Linked DNA regions of Homo sapiens. The protein of the gene in region 1 purifies or fractionates together with the protein of each later gene. This does not show direct contact. Each region holds a gene or a part of one and is shown on either strand. Other genes may lie near its edges. The genes, in order: KDM5C, ING3, ZMYND8 and MGA.

What was found.
Region 2: the proteins of KDM5C (region 1) and ING3 purify together in Homo sapiens (co-immunoprecipitation; 2 studies listed by BioGRID and IntAct, with this or other methods). This does not show direct contact.
Region 3: the proteins of KDM5C (region 1) and ZMYND8 purify together in Homo sapiens (affinity purification with mass spectrometry; 2 studies listed by BioGRID and IntAct, with this or other methods). This does not show direct contact.
Region 4: the proteins of KDM5C (region 1) and MGA purify together in Homo sapiens (affinity purification with mass spectrometry; 2 studies listed by BioGRID and IntAct, with this or other methods). This does not show direct contact.

Annotation. Positions count from the first base shown.
Region 1 is NC_000023.11:53,191,630-53,194,230, reverse strand, and holds the end of KDM5C (lysine-specific demethylase 5C), read left to right. Parts: coding exon 1-92; intron 93-379; coding exon 380-458; intron 459-594; coding exon 595-794; intron 795-898; coding exon 899-1,264; 3' UTR 1,265-1,393; coding exon of another isoform or gene 1,394-1,487; 3' UTR 1,488-2,073; downstream 2,074-2,601. UniProt on the Homo sapiens protein: Histone demethylase that specifically demethylates 'Lys-4' of histone H3, thereby playing a central role in histone code. Does not demethylate histone H3 'Lys-9', H3 'Lys-27', H3 'Lys-36', H3 'Lys-79' or H4 'Lys-20'.
Region 2 is NC_000007.14:120,960,727-120,967,777, forward strand, and holds part of ING3 (inhibitor of growth protein 3), read left to right. Parts: intron 1-4,015; coding exon 4,016-4,112; intron 4,113-4,529; exon of another isoform or gene 4,530-4,745; intron 4,746-4,976; exon of another isoform or gene 4,977-5,107; intron 5,108-5,899; coding exon 5,900-5,971; intron 5,972-6,802; coding exon 6,803-6,922; intron 6,923-7,051. UniProt on the Homo sapiens protein: Component of the NuA4 histone acetyltransferase (HAT) complex which is involved in transcriptional activation of select genes principally by acetylation of nucleosomal histones H4 and H2A.
Region 3 is NC_000020.11:47,208,664-47,213,700, reverse strand, and holds the end of ZMYND8 (MYND-type zinc finger-containing chromatin reader ZMYND8), read left to right. Parts: intron 1-975; coding exon 976-1,059; intron 1,060-2,803; coding exon 2,804-2,940; 3' UTR 2,941-4,487; downstream 4,488-5,037. UniProt on the Homo sapiens protein: Chromatin reader that recognizes dual histone modifications such as histone H3.1 dimethylated at 'Lys-36' and histone H4 acetylated at 'Lys-16' (H3.1K36me2-H4K16ac) and histone H3 methylated at 'Lys-4' and histone H4 acetylated at 'Lys-14' (H3K4me1-H3K14ac).
Region 4 is NC_000015.10:41,663,367-41,670,417, forward strand, and holds part of MGA (MAX gene-associated protein), read left to right. Parts: intron 1-5,461; 5' UTR 5,462-5,528; coding exon 5,529-6,592; intron 6,593-7,051. UniProt on the Homo sapiens protein: Functions as a dual-specificity transcription factor, regulating the expression of both MAX-network and T-box family target genes. Functions as a repressor or an activator.

The DNA.
Region 1 (2,601 bases):
AGGCTGAACCTAGACCTGAGGAGCCTCCTAACTACCCTGCAGCCCCTGCTTCTGACCCCCTCAGAGAGGGCAGTGGCAAGGATATGCCTAAGGTGAGCTACTCAGCCCAGCTCTTGTCCTCAGATTCTTGTCTCCTAGCCCCTACCCCAGTTTAGGCTCGGCCCTGCCCCTTGTTCTCCAATTTTCAGTTTTCTTTGGACCAGCCTTCCTACTCCATTCTGCATCTGTCCAGATTCCTAGACTCTGCTCCCTGCTGGCAGCCTGTGTCTTCCCTCCTCCTCCAGAAGGCGGAGGGTCTCAAGTTTGGGGTTGGCGGAGGAGGAATAGGGCCTGGTTCTTCACTTCAGTTGCCCCTACCTATTCTTGCTCTCCTCCGCAGGTCCAGGGCTTACTGGAGAATGGAGACAGTGTGACCAGTCCTGAGAAGGTAGCCCCGGAGGAGGGCTCAGGTAAGAGAGGTAGGTCTAGGTGTGGTGTGGGTAGGCTGTTGACTGCACATCACCATAGTGACCCATGTAGTCCTCAGCTCTGTTGTAGTGGTGGGGATAAGACCAAGGGCAGCCTCTAATGCCGCTTGTTCCTGCAACCTCCTAGATCTGGAGCTGCTGTCCTCGCTGTTGCCACAGTTGACTGGCCCTGTGTTGGAACTGCCTGAGGCAACCCGGGCCCCCTTGGAGGAGCTCATGATGGAGGGGGACCTGCTCGAGGTGACCCTGGATGAGAACCACAGCATATGGCAGCTGCTGCAGGCTGGACAGCCCCCAGACCTGGAGAGGATCCGCACACTTCTGGAGGTGAGGAGAGGGGTCATGGGCCGGGCCAGGAGGTCAGGCCGAGTAGGGAGCCCAGGCCTGACCACTGGCCCACAACCTGTCTTTCTGCCTGTCTGTAATCACAGCTGGAGAAGGCAGAGCGTCACGGGAGTCGGGCTCGGGGCCGGGCCCTGGAGAGGCGGCGGCGGCGGAAGGTGGATCGGGGTGGGGAGGGCGATGACCCAGCCCGAGAGGAGCTAGAGCCAAAGAGGGTACGGAGCTCAGGGCCAGAGGCTGAGGAGGTCCAGGAGGAGGAAGAGCTGGAGGAGGAGACTGGGGGTGAGGGCCCCCCTGCACCCATCCCCACCACTGGCAGCCCCAGCACCCAGGAGAACCAGAATGGCTTGGAACCGGCGGAAGGGACCACTTCAGGCCCCTCGGCCCCTTTCTCCACTCTGACTCCCCGGCTGCATCTGCCCTGCCCACAGCAGCCGCCTCAGCAACAGTTGTGACAGTGGCTGAGCCTAGCACAGACCCTGACAGAGACCCCCCTCGGCCTCAAGGATCCTCTTTCTGACCATCAAGCCTGCTTCTTGGGGGGTGGGCGGGTAGGGGGGTGGCCATCCCTGCTACCCGCCCACCCCTGAGTCCCTTGACTTTTGTATTCTGACTCCAAGGTATTGTTCAGACCTCAGCTCCTGGGGGCCGGCCCCTGGAGTCTTCCCTCCCTGGTAGCCTCTAACCAGCATTCCCAGACACCTGAGGCAGATAGATGGATGGGCTGGTGGGCAGGGGGGTGGCTGGGGCTGGGCCATCACCATTCCAGAGACAAGGCCAGTGTATATGCAAACTGGGGGACTCTCCTCCCTTCTCTCCCCAGTTCTGGTCCTGGCCAGGCCATGCTACACTAACCCCTGCCCCCACTCTCCTCCCCTCTTTTCCTTCCTTCCTACCCCCTTCTCCCTCTCCCTTCCCCTGACTGTTCCACCCAGGAGGAGGAAACTTCACATAGCCGTGCTCACAGTTTTTTATTTTAAAGGAATTTGGCTGGGGAGCTGAACAGGGCTCCCTGTGATCTGAAGAAAGCTTTTGGTGCTTGTCCTCACAACCACCTCAGTCCTCCCTCCCTGTCCTCCCCTGTCTCCTTTCCTCCTCCTGGGTTCATGTTGTAATAAAAGAAGATTGTTGGTGTGTAATTAATTTGTTCAAAAGAAAAAAAAAAGCAAAACAAGAAACTTGGTTCCAACTGAAGCCTATTTTAATTTTATTTTATTATTTTCCTCTTGTTAGAAATAAAACCCTTAGAAACATTTTTTGGAAACATGTTTCTGAAGTGCATTTCTCTTAGACGGGGAAGACAGTGCTTCCATCACCAGTCAGTGGAGCAGCTGTAGTGCTGGCAGGAGCACTAGGGCTGAAGCCAGGGAGCTCTGGGTTCTGAAATCAAGTTCCACCAGCTTCTTAACCTTGGGCAAGACATTCTGATCCTCCCCCGACTCTAACCCCAAGCCACTTTCCCTCAAGTCCAAACAGATGGGCTCGGGCCCCCTCACCCAAACTCCTACACTACAACCTCCCCCAGTTGATGCCCTCCAGTTTATCCTCCTCAAGCTCCCAAAGGGATTTTTTTGTTAATGGCTTTATTGAGATATAATTTACATACTATAAAATTCACTTGTTTGAAATGTACAATTCAGTGATTTGGGGGGTTTCTAAAGTGTAGATCTGATTATATACTGCTTAAAACCTTCCATGATGCTTTATTGCCCTTAAGATTATACATAGAATCTCGTTCTTCCTAGAATGTTTTCCTGTCTAACCCATCTACTGCATAATTCCCTGATTTTTC
Region 2 (7,051 bases), on another chromosome or scaffold:
AGTTTATTTTAGTAGCCGTTTTAGTGAAATTTGACTAACACACACAAAAATCTATCCTGTTAAAATAGTTTTGTTCTAGAAGCATGATACTCATAAATAGTTGTTAAATACTTATTTGTGTTTCTCAGCCAGATGTCACTGTCATAAGGATGTATTGGATTGCAATACCTAATAAAGTTGATTTATACATACCCTGATAAAATTTGAGCTTTTAGTTAATGCTTGAATGATTTTAGCAGTCTCTTGCAGTGCTCAATACCCTTGAACTTGCTTCTTTTTTTATATCCTGGCCTGTTCCTGAGATGGTTATATTTCAGATGCACATTTTACCTATAAATTTGAGAGTTTTCATCTGATACTCTAATTAAGGAAATATGTGAGTTTGACCTTTTGATTTCTGTCCTGTCCTTATTGTCTTTCAGGAAGATGATTAGACAGAGTTATATGCTAAGGCCTCTCAAGTATTTGTTTCAGCATAACAATAGGTCACATTTTCATCTAGTTTAAATCTAATTTAGAGATATAAAGAATCATTTTCATGACCTGTTATCTGAGAAATACTTTGCTATCATGGTTTCTTCTTCTTCCCCAATTTACCCTCTTTACTCGCTATTACTAGACCTTTTCATGGTTAGAAATTTAACTTACTGCTGTCTATTTCAACTTAGAATGTAACAGACTTGATTGCCTCTTCCGATAGGGCAAGCTAGACATCTAAATTTTATAAATTGATTGTATTGGAAGCAGTAGATCATGTAGAGACTTTAAAAAAGCTGTATTTAGTTTTGTTTGGGTCCATTAGTGATACACTTTAAATGTGAATATTAGAAAACCAGAGAGTCAAAAAAGAAAGAGTCAAAGATTACAACTCTATGCAAATATTATAGGATGAAGGATTTTTTGTTTGTTTTGTGCAGAGGGGCCAAGTATGACTTAAATTTGCTATGATCATGAGTGTGTTAACAAGTAATGTTGGTAGAATATCCTTTGTCTTTAAAGAGGCTAGAAAAATTATAGGAGTTTAAACTTAAAGCTGTTATGATTTGGGGTTGTAGAATATGATTTGGGATTATAGGGCAAGGAAACTTTGTTTATAGCACTTGTTGACATTAACTGGGAAAAAAAGAAATAATTAGACTCTGTGGTTAGCCCTGTTTTAGGAATCTGTGGCTAATGGAAAATCTCTCAATTGGATCAGTACCCTCTTTACTATTGTAAATCAGTCTTATGAAAGCAGATGTTTGTGGAAGGGTGAGGTAACTTACATCCTTGCTTTGCTTGATGCCTGTGGGGACAACATGGTGATCAGCTAGAAGAGGTGCTGTAACCGTTCAGAATCATGTAGGTTGAGGGAATGCACATGATGGATTTCAGGCAAGTTCACAGCTCTTATTATGGCTGTTTAATATTGTTTAAATATCCTAGTGCTTTATAGCTTAAGTTAATTCTTGTGGTCAATGGGACTTTCCAACTTCTAATTTGATTTAGTACAGCAGTAGTAAATAGAAGAAAAATAATGCTCATTGCCTAATAATTGCTTATAATATTAATCAGGTCATAATCTCTTTTACATATGAGGAAGTAAGAATGATTGGAAGCCGTCTTATAAAGATGCCTACCACAAGTGGTTAAGGCTTTTCTGTCTTTGTTTATTTTAACTATGAATTTGGTTTTTAGAGTTATTAACCCTTTAGGTTCTAGTGCCTTTTCTGAGCTATCTAGTATTGAAAGTCTTGTCATTATTTTTAACATTTTCATATGTAGTGAACTTTATCAATAATATATTTAATAAAATGAAACAATCCTTAAATGCAGAGGTGAAGTGAGTTAGGGCAAGGTGTATGGTATGAAAAAGAAAGGTCTTTATCTCACCCTAACACTACCCCCTCAACCTAACATTCTTGCTCACTGTGCTTTATATACATATTACACGCTACATCATACTTTGTTTTTCTCTAAGCATACTGTTTGTCTTTCTGTCTCTACATTTTTTATTGTGATTCCTTTTTTCCTTCTATTTGAATACAATCCATCTTCACCGTCTTAATTCGTACCTCCTTCGTGTCTACCAGTGTTACTTTTTTATGTACAACTTCTGACTCTTTTTGAACTGTTGCTTATTTGTGACATCTAGACTATATTTTTATCCCTTATTATATTAAAAATCATATATAAATCTTGATTTGTCAGCTAAATTCTAATTCCTATGAAGGCAATGATTCTCTTCCATTCTTCATATATCCTCCATTTAATCCAGCACCAAGCACGTAATAGCTCAATATTTATTATTAGTATAATTGTAGGTACAAAAAGCAATGGAGTGTTTTCGTTGCATTAGTGGTCTTGGAACTTAAATATGAATATTTTTTCTGATTTCCCTTGAGATTAAATTTTGACAATGAAAGAGGTATGCTCAAATAACAGACGTCTGTGTTCACACTATTATTGGAAAGGAAGTTCCATTAAAGGATGCTCAATTACCTGCAGATTCTTTGAATAGGAGCAAGTATCCATAATATGTGATGTTATAGGTTTTTAAATATTCTAGAACTCTGAAAAGTAATGTGTGTGTAAAGGTAGAAGGAAAACTGGCTTTCAGTTTTTGAAAAAATCACAAACCAACACCCTAATGATTGTTGTTAATATATAAAATACAAATAATAGGACAATATTACTAGTTTTTATACTTGAGTTATATTATTCTGAAGAATGTTTTTCAAAAAAAAAACAGTTGTTTTCTGCATGCAGAAAGTTCAGAGGTCAATGTCAGGTAAATGGCAAAGCAGAATTTGTTACAAATAAAGTTAAATTTGGTTTCTGTAATGCATTAGCTATATGACCTTGGGCATATTACTTAAGTAACCCTTCCGAGCCTTAATTTCTTCACCTATAAAGTAGAGACAGTAATAACTTCAAAAGATCAGATCGAGGGCTAGAAAAGATAGGTCATCTGATGCGTCAAGCACATTACCTCCTCTTCATAGGCATCTAACCCATGCACATTGTGTTTTGCTACCTTTCTCCCCTTCTTCCTCATGTTAGTTACACATTATTTAATTCTAAACCTTACTTAAAATGTTGCCCTGGTAGAGTATCATAGCACATGTTGATATCTGTAAGAAAGTTATTTCTAATTCTAGCAGTAATCCAGTGGGAAACTAGACTTAGAAAAGGATGTTATCAATAATGTGACATGAATATTTTTCAAAGAATTTGTGTATTTTTTGGTTTCACTTCAAAGTAATGAGTTTGAAAAAATATTAAAATATTTAATATTAAGTTTAAAAAATACATTAAGACATTTTTTGTTAGTTTGAAGTGTCATATAATTTTCTGAAATTAGTCAAAAGATCTCTCAGTGACAAAATAAAATTTTGCCAAGTTAACTAGGGAAATAGTATTATAAATAAAATAATTTTAACCAGATCCTTTGAGGAATGGAGTTTTCTGGCTAACAATCCCTTTTGTTTCACCTCTTCACATAAATGTTTACAAGCATTATGATTCACTCTCATGCCTTAGAGTAATAGATGTATAGAATATAGGAACTTCTTTGTAGACTGAGGATCTTTCATCATTCTAAATAATAGCTTTTATCGTATGACAGTGTGGATGATGGCCTTATAAGCAGGAGGAGATTAGGCTCTAAGTAATCACAGGGCATATTATGAAAAGTGACCAGCCTCCACCATCCCCTCCTCCCATTCTCTAATCCCTAATCAGTTTTGCTTTAATTTTCATGTCCTGACTTCTGAAAATGGAGTATAGAACATTTCCTAACAAGTTGAGAGTCTGGGTCTTAGAACTTAAAATTTATTGAAGGAGACTTGGGAGATTATTTAGCCTAACACCCTCATTTTATAGATTAAAAACCTCTGAGGCATAGATTAATTGACTTGCTCAAGGATACTAAGCAGATTCACTAAAAGAAACAAAAATTTAGGTTTCCTCATTAAGCTGACACTTTAACAGTGTCCCAAATTTTGGTGGTTATCTTTGATCTTCTTTGAAACAGGTAGATCGACACTTGAGAAAGCTGGATCAGGAACTGGCTAAGTTTAAAATGGAGCTGGAAGCTGATAATGCTGGAATTACAGAAATATTAGAGAGGCGTAAGTAAAATTTACAGTTTTCCATCAATATTGGACAGTACATGTGCAAATCGCTGAGAAGACCTTGTCCCACAGAGGCTTTTGAAATCCTGCCCTTCAATGGATGGTGGCATCCAGGCCAGATAGCTTGGACCCTAACAGTTGGAAATGTTTGGGTCATGCATACTGAGAGAGATAATATAGGATATCATCCACTCACTCTTTATGAAACAACATATTAAATCATTTTATATCCACATATACTAGTAAGTTGAGTGGTAAGAACAAATTTAAAGAAATGTAACCATCGGGAGACAAATTAACCATCTTGCATTAAGTGTGTTGACTTTACTCTGCCTCTTTATACACTTAAGCTTTGAGGAAAGTTGTTAGTTTCTCTTCTTAAGAATTACTTTATGGCTTTTCCTTAACTGCATATACTGAAAAAGACTCACATTGGTTTCATAACACTACCTCTTTTTCTTAAAGAAGTGTTTTCTTCTTTCCCTTAGCAGCAAGAAACCATTTTGATATTTCTTTGCAAGGCTCTATTTGATCTCCTGCTATAACTTACCCCTGTCACTTCTTTGGTGTGACTTCCCAAAAATGGAAGCATGAGCACTGTTTCCTTAACTAATTTAGCATTTCTTCAACCTAAATAGGTAATGTACATAAAAGCAGTTAGTGTGGTACTAGGTGTAGAGTAGGCACTCACTAGATGTTAATTGAACCAAATTAATATTATGGCTAATTTCTACTAGAATTTAATTAAAACTTACAAACCTTCTTTTTCTTGGTGCATTTCAACAGTAAGAATATGTACCTGTTTCTACACACAGATGAAAGATTTCTTTACAGTGCCAATCTATGTATCTCTCTACTCACTAGAAGTCAGCTAGGGAAGCCAATCACAGATCTGTCTTGGTATCCATAGTTGCATTTTTGTGTTCAAAAGTAGATCCATCACTTTAGATAATCATCCTATTTATTTGTGATACTTTTCTTCTGGAGGAACCCTATATAAAGATAATAAGTATTTTGAGACAAAATTAAAAATTCTGTATCTGCTTTGATTTTTTAAAAATGCTGATGATAGCTGTGAGTAATGATAATTCATGCCTATTCAGTACTGCAGGAAGGTTAATAAAGCATCCTCTCTAAGGACACAGACATATGAAACAAAATTGGATCAAGTTATAAAAACTGCTCCACCCTGTGCCCTGCCATAATTTCATCTCAAGGGATCAAAAATAAACCCAGAAAAATGTATTTAGAGGTATTTTAAAGCTTGGTGTTAGAGATTCTATTCCTCACTTTTTGCGAACAAAATCCCTAACTTCTTTTAGGAAGTCTTTATTATCATAATGTCATTTTAATGATCAAATAATTTTTTTCATATAGTAATGTCCCCCATCACGTAGAACTTCAGAATCTCCCATTAAAAGGTCTTCAACTCAGTAAAACTAGGTTGACTCTTACCAGTAATGAGATTACAATGTCCATTCATCCATTTATATGGCACCCACTATGGTGAATTCCCTAATTAGACACGAGTATGCCTTGAGCCATTTTGTACTTAAGATTAATATTGGGAAAAGGATAACTTATTGTTTAGAGAGAGGATAACTCAGTGTGGGATGGACAGTGGTGATCCTCTAACATGTCTGGCTAAAATAAATACAGGCATATGCATCAGAACTTGCTAGTCCTCTGCTGGGTAAGGGAACTCATTGCCTGTAGTTGAGTGACATGTGAAGTTCTGCGGTGACATTTAATGGTGGTGTATCTCTGTGCCTCTCTTCTTTTAGGATCTTTGGAATTAGACACTCCTTCACAGCCAGTGAACAATCACCATGCTCATTCACATACTCCAGTGGAAAGTAAGTTTGGTGTAGTGCAGCTAAGTTTTAAAAACAATGAAAACCTTATTATATCACCTATATGTTCTCTTTTTTTAACTCTACACAACCAATTGAGAAATAAATCCCTTCTTTTTTTTTCATTGCAAGTACTGGCAGACTTGTCTTTTTCCTTGGGGGGAGCATATGTGATTCGGAAATGAGTATTCTGTTTTCTCTTAAATGCGTAGAAGGAGAATGTATAGTACTAATAGCATATATTCCCTTCATACACATACCTGATTCTCCTTAGGGAGCTTTTCAACTGAGCATTCTCCTTAGGGAGCTTTTCAACTGAGCCAAACAATAAGCTATTTTGTAATAGGCCCTTTGTCTTTTTCATCCTTGCTTCTCCAGTGCTTAACCTAATGTTTGGCATATAATTAAGTCTGAATGGTTGGTAAGTCAGTGAGTGGATGAATTGTTAGTTAGATGACTGGCTGGCTGGTTGGTAACAGTCAAAAAATGACTATATCAGTACATCTTTTGACACATCAATTTGGTGGGAAACTATTTTAAGTGGTAGATTGTGTTTTGAAAACAAAATTTCCCTCACATTGTATGTGAGCCCATGGTGTATCTTGGGTTATCTTTAGTACTTTGCTAGAAGTTTTTTAAATGGTGGAGAAGTCTACTCTTAATAAACATGTGACACAGAGTTCTGCTTGTCCTGCCTTCTGAGGAAACATCATGTTCTGTATTTTATGAGGAACCCAGATCATACTGTTTCACATTTTAACTGGATATAAGTATTATGCCTTGTCCATAGTTCTCTAAAGTTTAAAAACACATGAATTTTTTATTTATATTTAGAAAGGAAATATAATCCAACTTCTCACCATACGACAACAGATCATATTCCTGAAAAGAAATTTAAATCTGAAGCTCTTCTATCCACCCTTACGTCAGATGCCTCTAAGGAAAATACACTAGGTAAGTTAATTTTCTTAAATATGATTGCTTTGTTTGTTTGTGTTAGAGTAAGGGGAAATAAAGTGTTTCAGGATTAATGAATCATACAGTTTCTTTACCTGGTTAAAGTATACATATGGAGAAAGAAGA
Region 3 (5,037 bases), on another chromosome or scaffold:
GCTCTTTTGTTCTGTCTGCTACAGACAGTATCTCTTGACCCCTCTTTTGGCAGTCCATCTTCTCCTTACCTCTCCCACCCCTGTCATAGCCAGGCTTCCCACCTGTCCTGTGACTTTCCCCGTTGTCAAGGTTGAGAACATGTGCATTCTGTCCTATAACTGCAGTTAAGCCTCACTCTTGTCTGTTGGCTTAGTCTAAAAAGTTGCAGTGTGACAATTCTTTCTTGTATGATTATGACCATATCATTCATGGCAGAGTCACATAGTGTACTGTGATTATATTCCATTCTTTTATAGCCTTTTTCCTGGAGTTTCTATTTTTTCTCTTGATCTTACTTTCAATTGTTTTCCTATGAAGCTTCTCACGGTATCAGCTGTTTACGGAGACTCCTTTCATATCACTGTTTTTTGACTCTGATTTCAGAGGTGATTTGTTGGTGTGCTACCATCGTAGCTGAGAATTTAGCTTACTTGCCACCTCATCTGGAGCCCCTTCCTTAGTCCTCCTCATCACGTGTGCCTTCTCCATCCTCTCCTCCCTATTCTGTTATCACTGTGGGCAGTTGATGAGTTATTGCCTTAAATTGTCTGGCTTTCTCGGGTGCTGCCTTCAACCTTAGCACGTTTCTAGTGCCTGCCTCCGTTTCCCATGGTTGAATTAGGCTATTGGCAGAGCTAGTGGTTGAAAATTTGTGGCTTACAAAATGCTGAGTTGCTTTTATGTCATTGTATACCTTATTTCCTACCTGTAATGCTGTGCTGTGTCCAGTGATGCTGTTTGTGGTTTGATATGCATTTTTAAAGAGACTTAGTCTCCTGTGCTTGCATTAAAGTTGGACAATGGTGACATGAATGAAGGTGCCAACTGGTTCTAATAACAGTAGCCTGTTGATGAACAAAAATAGTAAGCACTTGGGGTTGTGCGGAATTCCAGCTCTCTGACAGACTCTGAGGCTACCTGTGCTATCTCTTCAGTTAGCAAAAGGTGTGACAAGCAACCTGCCTATGCCCCAACCACCACAGACCACCAGCCGCACCCCAACTACCCCGCCCAGAAGTGTAAGTATGAACCTGTCTTACGAAAGCTGCCGGGGCTTCTTCCTGGTATGCAGAAGGCTTGTTCTGTGTGTGTCCGTGTATGTGTTCCTTTGTGGGTGTGTCTTCTCCTGTTCTTTTGAGTTGTGGGTCTTCCTTTGCAACGTTTCTTCTTCGCTGTGCCTCTGGTCGCCATCACAAACTGCATTAGGAAATGAGAGCGAGCATGTGGCCTGGCTTCTTGATGGAGATCGTCCTCGCTCTTTTCATAAAGGGTCCTAGATGAACACCGATTCCCTCCTGTGGTGATTGGCTATGGCAGCCAGTGTCCCGTGTCCTCTCCATATGAGGAGTGAGGGCCTGCAGATCCCTCCATTAGCCAGCCTGGTTCTGGGAGAGAGATACTGAACTCAGCTTGGCCCTGGTCCCATTTCTTCCAGTACCCGCTGGTGGTCTCTGCCCTCACCAGAGCTGGAAGGACTTGATGTGGTTTGACCACATCACTGTAGGATTTTCTCCCAGATGGGGATGACCAGCTGCATCACTCCCCAGAGTCCTTCCGGAGAAATAAAAGCATAGGCATGGCGGCTAAGGGAAGAAGGCATAAGAAGGCAGATTGAGGATTGTTAAGAAGACTCCGCCCTTGCCCCCAGCTCTGCCTACCATAGTATTGCTCCCTTTTGGTCACTGATGCACATGACTAAGAAGAGTTCTCTCCTGAGTAACTACATGACTTTGGAGATCTTTGTCATTCTCTTCACTGCTTATCTTCCAGAACTCATGATTACCCACACATGCCTTTTTACCAGGCAGTAAGAAATGCAGCCCCCCTAGGTAGTAGCATGGTCCCCTCCTTGGCCCACTCCACTCTTGCCCTCAACCTCTTTCAACCAAACATTATCACCCACCTTAAGAAATTAAAAAATAATTCTGTCCCAGTCTGTCTGAACTTAGTACATGATCCAGGATGTGATGGGATCTTAGGGCTTGGCTGGAAGGTTTCTCCAGTCAGCCATCTAGCAGAGCTGCAGATCTGGGCTGGGCTGTTGGCTAAAGTGCTCTTCACAGACACCTCATTCGGCTCTTCCTTCAGCTTCTTCACTTATTTCTTACTCAGTCACTACTCAGCTCCTTGTCCATGTGTCCTTGAAGCCATCCTAGGTCTTATTCTGATTCTGAATTCTTCAGTCACCCATAAGCTTGTCCTTACCGGGAGTCAGTGGGTGTGTGTTCCCAGGTGGACTTAACCATTCTTCTCCTTTATGATCCTTTCCCTTGGGTGGACAAGTGTGATTTGGTTGTAAGGCCATTTTTCAAGTTGCCTATACATTGATAAAAGAAATCCCACTAACGGAAGTAGACTGCATGCCAAATTTCAGTGTCTTTCTCCAGGGGCCAAGGTTGGACCCAGAAGTGCATGGGGTGCTTGGTGTCGTTCAGTGATGTAGTAAGGATACACGGTTCCAGACACGGCACAAGAAATGCCTTCCTTGGCAGTTCAGCACCTTTTCTACAAATCTTTATTCTCTGTGAGCATGACACCCTACCGTTTTTTCAACCGGTTGTCGTTAAATCCTAAAAAATAAGTTGTTCTACCTTTCTGTTCTACAGACCCACAGATGCAGGGCAGTCAGCGGTGGCAGTGTTTGAACCATCAATTGGGAGGGGAAGGTGGTTTCCTGTGCAGGAGGGGCAGGTCAGATTGCAGGATAGTTGTGCTCAGGCGCAGGTGGGCAGGCACGCTAAACACATTGGTTTTCCCCCTCAGACCATTCCCGGAGTAATAAATCCAGTTGGAGCAGCAGTGATGAGAAGAGGGGATCGACACGTTCCGATCACAACACCAGTACCAGCACGAAGAGCCTCCTCCCGAAAGAGTCTCGGCTGGACACCTTCTGGGACTAGCAGTGAATCGGGACACAAACCACCCACCCCATTGGGAGAAAAACCCAGACGCCAGGAAAAGAAGAAACAACAAAGGCAGGAGAACAGCCACTTTCAGACTTGAAAATGACAAAACCCTCAGTTGAGCCTGAGCCCCCGGCGCGGGGGCTGCTACACTACAGGACACCCAGCATCGGCTTTGACTGCAGACTGTTCACCCACACGAGCCCTGTGCTTTTGGTGTAAATAATGTACAATTTGTGGATGTCATTGAATCTAGAGGACTTTCCCCTTTTTATATTTGTATTAACTTTAACTTATTAAAAAAAAAAAAAGAAAAAGAAAAACGATTTAAAAAAAAAAAAAAAAGCAACCAACCCCAACAACAAAAAAGAATGTTTTGGTATTGGAGAAGGGATGGTCAGTTAGCCTGTCTGTCACACGACGGAATGGATACTGGGCCCGGGGACCACTTTCATACTCACGTCCTCATCCTTGGATACCCAGGGGAGGGCGAACCGTTTTCGCTCGTGTGTCTGTACGCAGCATGTTGGGATCGGGAGTTTCGGCACAGACTATCCCATCAAGCCGTTGGCTCCTTTCAGCTACTACGTTACCACGTTCCTAAAACGCAAGCTCTCCGGACCAGACGGACACAGGGAGAAGCTAGTTTCTTTCATGTGATTGAAATGATGACTCTACTCCTAAAAGGGAAAAAACAATATCCTTGTTTACAGAAGAGAAACAAACAAGCCCCACTCAGCTCAGTCACAGGAGAGAACACAGAAAGTCTTAGGATCATGAACTCTGAAAAAAAGAGAAACCTTATCTTTGCTTTGTGGTTCCTTTAAACACACTCACACACACTTGGTCAGAGATGCTGTGCTTCTTGGAAGCAAGGACTCAAAGGCAAGGTGCACGCAGAGGACGTTTGAGTCTGGGATGAAGCATGTACGTATTATTTATATGATGGAATTTCACGTTTTTATGTAAGCATGAAACACAGGCAGTATGAGAGAAAGCAAGGCCCGTCATGCTGTCCGTACACTACGTATGCTGTAGAGCCATTTTGTATGTTGTGTAAAACAAAAAGCATTGATGAAAAAGCAAAAGGTGATGTATGTATATGAGAAAATTAATTGTACGATATCATTCCAGTACGTTTTGTTGTACATTTTAGTCTTGTTTACTTTCTCTTCATTGTTAAGAGGATGCGAACTGTACAGTTTCCAGCTAGTTACCCATATTAGAGAAGAAATAAGAGAGTATTAGAAGAAAACAGGAGAGAAAGAACATTTGTGAATTGCAGTTGTCAAAAAAAAAAAATAGCCTAGCTGGCCTTATTTGTGAAGCATAATTGCTTTTAGCATATGGAAGTATTTTTTCACATTTTCTTTGTATAAAATTTGTATTAAACTTAAATATCTTTTTGATGGTGGTGTTTCTTTGTGACTGAGCCAGTAGACTCACACTATATGCTTTTTTGGGTTTGCCCGTTCCTTCCCCCACCCCCCCAGTTTTTTCAGATTTCTTTACCTTTTTTTAATTAAACTGTTTTGGAAAAATGCCGTGGTCGTCCTCGAATTTGCAGTTTTCCATTTGGTCGGGATGGCTGTGTCAGGTTTGCACGACCAAACACAGAAGGGGCCGTGAGAGGTCATGAACACCCCCCACAGCCAGGTGGTGGGCACACTGGAGAGAATGGGCCCTAGTGGGTGCCCCCCACGCCAGTCCTCGTCAAACAGTTGGGAGAGGACGGAGTTGTCTTCTTGAAGCCCGTAGGGAGGCCGAGCTAACAGGCCTCGCGTGGGCAGCAAGGATCCCAGCCCCTCGCAGGTGCCCTGGTCCATGGCTCTGGGCCTGGCTGGAGGTGCACAGGGTATGAGTAGAATGAAGCCGGCTTGAAAGGCTGAGGTTTGGTTTCCTGGGCAGCAGTGTTCCTTCTCTGCAATCCAGTAACTCCCCAGAAAAGATCTCCACAAACCCCTTCCTGTGCCAAGGGCCAAGACATGACATGGCCGGCAGGGGAGGTTGGCCCGCGTGGGCATAAGTTCATTCCTGCCAATCAGCAAACACACATCGCGTCAGGCACTGTCCAGGCACTGAGGATCCCATGGT
Region 4 (7,051 bases), on another chromosome or scaffold:
TATACCAAAATTGTGGTTTTCATTAAAGCTTTTAGTTTCCCAGAGTATTTTTAGGATGTTGCTAGAAGATTTATTTCTTCATGAGTAGCCTACCCTTTTCTTTTCTTTATTATTATTATTGTTGTTGTTGTTGTTGTTATTATTTTGAGACCGAGTCTCACACTATCTCCAAGGCTAGAATGCAGTGGTGCTATCTCGGCTCATTGCAACCTCCTGCCTCATCCTCCCGAGTAGCTGGGACTACAGGTGCGCAACACGACGCCCGGCTAATTTTTTGTATTTTTTGTAGAGAGAGGGTTTTGTCATGTTGGCCAGGCTGATCTTGAACTCCTGACATCAGGTGATTCGCCCGCCTCAGCCCCTCAAAGTGCTGGGATTACAAGCGCGAGCCACCGCTCCCGGCCTAGCCTACCCCTTTCTAAAGTACATTTGAGTTTTGCGGTTGGCTTAAGTAGACTTTAGAGTGGTCTTGGTGTGTCTGAAACAGCTGAATATCCTTAATTGACTGCCCTTTGATTAGAAAATTCAAATGTTTTACAATATTTATCTTAGAAAAAAAAGAAAATTCATATGGTAGCTCCAAACCTAGGCATATGCTTATAGCGAAGTGGAATCTGTGCCTAGATTGATGTAGAATAAGAATTTCATTCCATGTTCTTAAACCAGTAGCTGTTATGGCTCAAGATAGAGATGGTTTTAGTCATAAATTAAGTCTTTAATTCAATGCATTTTCATCAACTAATGGATTAATTTGATTAGTGGAGTTAAAAAACCGGCCTTATACAAATCATAAGTCAGAAGTTTATTTTCCTGTCTTCAGGCACATTTTTACATTTTTTTATTATATGCCTGTGCACAAAGTTGAAATAGGTTGATATGACTTCTCTGCACTAATATTTTGCTTCGGCAGAAAGAAAAACTCAGTGTGTGTATATAAAGTTAGTGTAAAATTTACTTCAAGTGCAGTCTGATTTTCACCAAACTGGGTTTTTGTCAACTGCATCTTTGACATTTCATAGATTAATCTTTAAAAGACAGTAATTTTTAAAGAATTGGTTAAAACTTCTCTGTCTTGGTTTTACTGGTAATGATCTGAAAACCAAAATTTTAGTTTATAGAAAGATGTTTAATAAATTCGGCACCTTTTCATGTAATTTATAGGTTTGGGATAACTAGATTTTTTTTCATATACTTCTTTGCTGCCTTAGTCATATGAAATGCACCTAAGGATGTTGTGCTCACGTGGAACACATACACACAAAGGATGTTTTGCATACTTATTCACAAAAATAGTTGGTGATTTGTAATAAAACCTTGAAGTTTATGAATTAATAAGTACAAGCTAGGAGTTTGCATTGTTTGAATTATACATCATTGTAGAGGTATTTTTTTTTTGCCAGTTCTTTAAGCTTTAATATTTTACCTTATTTGTGACTTCCGTTTAGTTTTGTTTTGTCAGTCTCTGATAGGTATCGCCTAAGTGTGTTAGTTTTAGAAAACCAATCAACTTCATAGGTAAAAGCTTGAGGCAGCTTTTGAAAAGAATCACTGTACATTTTATCTCTTTTAAAAATAAACTTCACATCAGAGGAGAGATTTTTTGTTGTTGTTGTTCCTGACCTTTCCTGATATTAGTGCTTTAGTGTTGGGAAGTGAATTTCTATTTTTATCTCTAGTCATAATAGGAAACAATAGTAAACCTTTTGAAGTCGTGATTTTAAAAATATCTATTATCTGTAGACTAACAGATATTTTAAGCTTTGGAGCTGTATGACCAATCTTGTAAGAAGAGGTAAAATTCAGATTAGGTGCTTTTGCTGCTCATCATTAGCTCTGATGAAAGGTAAAATACTTTTTAATTATAATGAAGAAGACTAATAAGTGGCTGAATTTGATTAAGATTACTGACCCACTTACACAGGAGTGGTGGTGATGTAGCATCTTCCTTTTTGTATAAAAACTGGAAGCTGTAGCTTTAATTTGGCATATGAGTTCGGTTGATTTTAGCAATCAGATTTCGTTTTGGTTTTTTTTTTTTGAGACAGGGTCTCACTCTGTCATCTAGACTGGAGTGCAGTGGCACCATCACAGCTCACTGCAGCCTTGGCCTCCCCACCCCCAGGCTCGAGGGATCCTCTCACCTCAGCCACTCAAGTAGCTGGGACTACAGCTACACACCATTGTAGAGATGGAGTCTCACTGTGTTTTCCAGGTTGGTCTCAAACTCCTGGGCTTAAGCGATCCTCCTGCCTCAGCCTCCCAACGTGCTGGCATTATAGGCATGAGCCACCATGGCCGGCCTCATTTCTTTATTATAACTTTTTATTGAGATATAATTCACATAACATATAATTCATCATTTTAAAGTATACACCAAAAAGAAATCCCACACCCATTAGCAGTTAGTCCCAGTTACCCCTTCCCCTGAAACCACTAATCTACTTTGTTTCTCTAGATTTGCCTGTGTTGGACATCTCATATAAATGGAATCATACAATATATGTGACCTTTTTCTTTATAACCTTTAATAATTAACTAATTTTAACTTTATTTTTTATTTTTTTAAAGAGACGGGGTCTCACTCTGTCTCCTAGGCTGGAGTGCAGTGATATGGTTATGGCTCACTGCAACCTGAACTTCCAGGGCTGCTGAAGGTGTCCTCCTGCCTCAGCCTCCTGGCCACCATACCTGCTATTTTTTTTTTTTTTTTGGTAGAGACTGACTGGCTATTTTGACCAGGCTGGTCTTGAACTCTTGACCTCAAACGTTACTCCCACATGGGCCTCCTAAAGTGATGGAATTACCGGTGTGAGCCACTGCACCTGCCCACCTGGCCTGTGTTTTAGTTTTTAAAGGTTGTGTGTTCACAAGACACAAAATTTACAAAGTGTAAAAGGGTATCTTTTCCAAGTCATCAAGTTTTCCTTGGATATGACCAATACTACTGTTTTCTTTTCTGTCTTTCCAGAGATAGTCTGTGTAAAGCAAATATGTACATGTTCTTTTTCATTCTTTGGCTTTTTATTTATTTTAAAGACCGAAATACTGTCTATTTCTTTGATTTTAAAAAGGAAAAATCTTTTACAAGGGTTGAAAAACTACCTATCAGGTACTATGTTCACTGCTTGGATGATGGGATCATTAGAAGCCCAAACCTTATATTATGCAGTAGACTCATGTAAACAAACCTGCACGTGTTCTCCCTGTCTGAAGTTTAAGAGGTACAATAAAAAACTTTTAAAAGATGTGTGGCATAATTTACAACTCTTCTGAACATTTTACGCTTAATATATCTTGTAGATACTTTTTGCATGCATTCATTAAGCTTATACATTCTCTTTTGTGACTGTTAACATTCCACTCTATGGATGTGTCATCATTTGTTTTACCATTTTAAGGACTTCTCTCTTCCTGTCTAGTCTTTTGCTGTTATAAGTGGGAATGCAGGGGATAATCTTGTATAGATATCATTTATCACAGGTGTGTGTATTTAAAATAAAGTCCTATAGTGGGTTTTAACAGTGAATTAAGAAAACTTAAAGTCCTGGGAACAATTCTTTGTCATAGGATGATATATGGATTTGTACTTTTGATATTTTCAAGTTGCCCTCTCTTAGAGATTCTATTATTTTATACTCCCAGTAACTGCTTAGGGGAGAATGCTGGTTGACCTAACCCTTTCCAGCACTACCAGGCTTTGATTTTTGCCAGTCTGATAAGTAAAAAAACAGTATCTCAAGATGACTTTAATTTGCTTTCCTCTTAACTATGTACATATTCATAGCCATTTGCGTTTATTATCCTTTACTCATTTTTCTGTTAGGTATTTGGTCTTGTTGATTTGTAGGAAGCCTTTAAAAATTATTATTACTGTTAATGTATTTTTATTTTTTTTTTTGAGTCAGAGTCTCGCTCTGTCACCCAGGCTGAAGTGCAGTGGTGCCATCTTGGCTCGCTGCAACTCCACCTCCTGGGTTCAAGCAATTCTCTTGTCTTAGCCTCCCGAGTACCTGGGATTATGGGCGCACACCACCATGCCTAGCTAATTTTTTTATTTTTAGTAGAGACAGGGTTTCACCATGTTGGCCAGGCTGGTCTTGAGCTCCTGACCTCAAGTGATCTGACCTCCTTGGCCTCCCAGAGTGCTTGGATTACAGGCGTGAGCCACTGCTCCCCCGCCGCTATTATTTTTTAATAGAGACGGACTTTCACTACGTTGGACAGGCTGGTCTGGGACTCCTGACTTCAAGCAATCCTCCTGCCTTGGCCTCCCAAAGTGCTGGGATTATAGGTGTGAGTCACCATGTCCAGCCCCCTTTTTATATTAGGGAAAGGAGTTCTTTATAAGTTGCAAATACCTTTTCCTGGTTAGTTTGCTTTTTGATTTTGCTTAAATGATTTTGCCAGATTAAAAAATTTACAGAATATTAAATTTTATTTTATTTTTATTTCTTTGAGACGGAGTCTTTCCCTGTCACCCAGGCTGGAGTGCAGTGGCGTGATCTTGGCTCAGTGCACCTTCTGCCTCCTAGGATCAAGTGATTCTCATGCCTCAGCCTCCTGAGTAGCTGGGACTACAGGCGTGCACCACCACACCAGGCTAATTTTTTAATTTTTAATAGAGATGGGGTTTCGCCATGTTGGCCAGGCTAGTCTCGAATTCCTGGCTTTAAATGATCCACTGGCCTCAGCCTCTCAAAGTGCTGGGATTGCAGGTGTGAGCCACCACACCTGGCATCATATAGTATTAAATTTATCACTTTTTTTTTTTTTGGCCTTACTGGTTTTAGATTTTGTGTCTTATCAAAAAACTTTTCTCAGGATTTAGGAATAAAAAAATTAAATATTAGAGTCATCTGGAATTTATTTCAGTGTAAGGTCCATTGAGTTCCAGTGATTTGTCATGGCTTCTTTAAACGTGTGTACTAAGAAGTTAGATAGCTTTTTACTTATTTATGGAACCATGTCTTCTGAACCATATGAAGAACTAATTCTGTACAATTAGCTCTTTGGGATGAAAATGGAACTTTACTTATTTAATTTACTCATCACTGGGGAACTTGCTATATAAAGGAATCTTCTGGTAAATTCATAAAGTGTTAGGATGCTTTAAAAATGCATAACCTTCAAATTTAACTTTTTAATTTTGTATACTTTTTTAATAATGAATATACTCTTTTGTTTCTTTGTGTGAGATTATAGTATTTATAGTGAATTGTTAGAGGATTAGGATATAAGCACCTTAACTAATTAGATTAAAATGAACTTTAAAAAATGATTAGATATTCCAGAGTAAATATTCTTACTGTGATTGAAAGAAAAGCTTAGAAGCAAAGTCTTAGAAGAATTTAGGAATATTTTGGGGATAACATAATCGTTCTTGTATTTTTGTTCAAGAAATAAATACTCACTTGATTAAAGGGTGTTTTTTGTTTTTGGTTTTTTTTTGCTTGTTTCTTAGGATGGGAAGGCCATTGTGACTATGTGGTGATTACAGTTGTCTTACTACTGAGTTTCCTACTGAAATCATGGAGGAGAAACAGCAGATTATATTGGCTAATCAAGATGGTGGAACAGTGGCAGGAGCAGCACCTACCTTCTTTGTCATCTTAAAGCAGCCAGGAAATGGCAAAACTGATCAAGGAATTTTGGTTACTAATCAGGATGCCTGTGCTTTGGCTAGTAGTGTGTCATCACCAGTAAAATCTAAAGGGAAGATTTGCCTTCCAGCTGATTGTACTGTGGGTGGAATCACTGTTACCCTCGATAACAATAGTATGTGGAATGAGTTCTATCATCGAAGCACAGAGATGATTCTGACCAAGCAAGGAAGACGCATGTTTCCTTACTGTCGTTATTGGATAACAGGTTTAGATTCAAATTTGAAGTATATTCTTGTCATGGATATATCTCCTGTGGATAACCATCGTTATAAGTGGAATGGTCGTTGGTGGGAACCTAGTGGGAAGGCTGAACCTCATGTTTTGGGGAGGGTTTTCATTCATCCAGAATCTCCTTCCACAGGTCATTATTGGATGCATCAACCAGTATCTTTCTATAAACTCAAACTTACCAACAATACACTGGACCAAGAAGGGCATATCATCTTGCACTCTATGCATCGTTACCTGCCGAGGCTTCATTTGGTGCCTGCAGAAAAGGCTGTGGAGGTGATACAATTAAATGGCCCTGGTGTCCACACTTTTACCTTCCCACAGACTGAATTCTTTGCAGTAACAGCTTATCAGAACATTCAGATTACTCAGCTGAAAATAGATTACAATCCATTTGCCAAAGGCTTTCGGGATGATGGGCTGAATAATAAGCCCCAGAGAGATGGAAAACAAAAGAACAGCTCTGACCAAGAAGGGAATAATATTTCCAGTTCTTCTGGTCATCGGGTCCGTCTTACAGAAGGTCAGGGGTCAGAGATACAACCAGGTGATTTGGATCCTTTGTCAAGGGGTCATGAAACATCAGGCAAGGGTTTGGAGAAGACTTCCCTTAATATAAAACGAGACTTTCTTGGTTTCATGGATACTGATTCAGCACTTAGTGAAGTTCCTCAATTGAAGCAAGAGATTTCTGAATGGTAAGTAGTAGTTTTTCTGTTCTTAGAAATAAAAGGAAGATTGAGATGGGCCAGGTGTTGGATTTAACATCTTGGTTCTGTGGAATGCTACAGATGTTGATAAATGTAAGCCACTATAAAATATACTACAACTGCTTTTACATTCTGTGAAGTGACATCATTTTTCTGTAATGAGAATCAGTTGGGTTCAGGATCTAGAATTGTAGGCAAATTGGATAACTTATCAGAATTATTCATATGTATTTAGAATGTTCCTTGATATCCTTGGGGGATTGGTTCCAGGACCACCCAAGAATACCAACACCTGACTACATTTGAGACTCCATCTCAATAAAAAAAAGAAAATCATACCAATTATGACAACATAGATGAGCCTAGAGAATACTATGCTAAGTGAAATAGGCAAAACAAAAAAAGACAAATACTGCAAAATATTCATAAAAGTAGAAAGTAGAATGG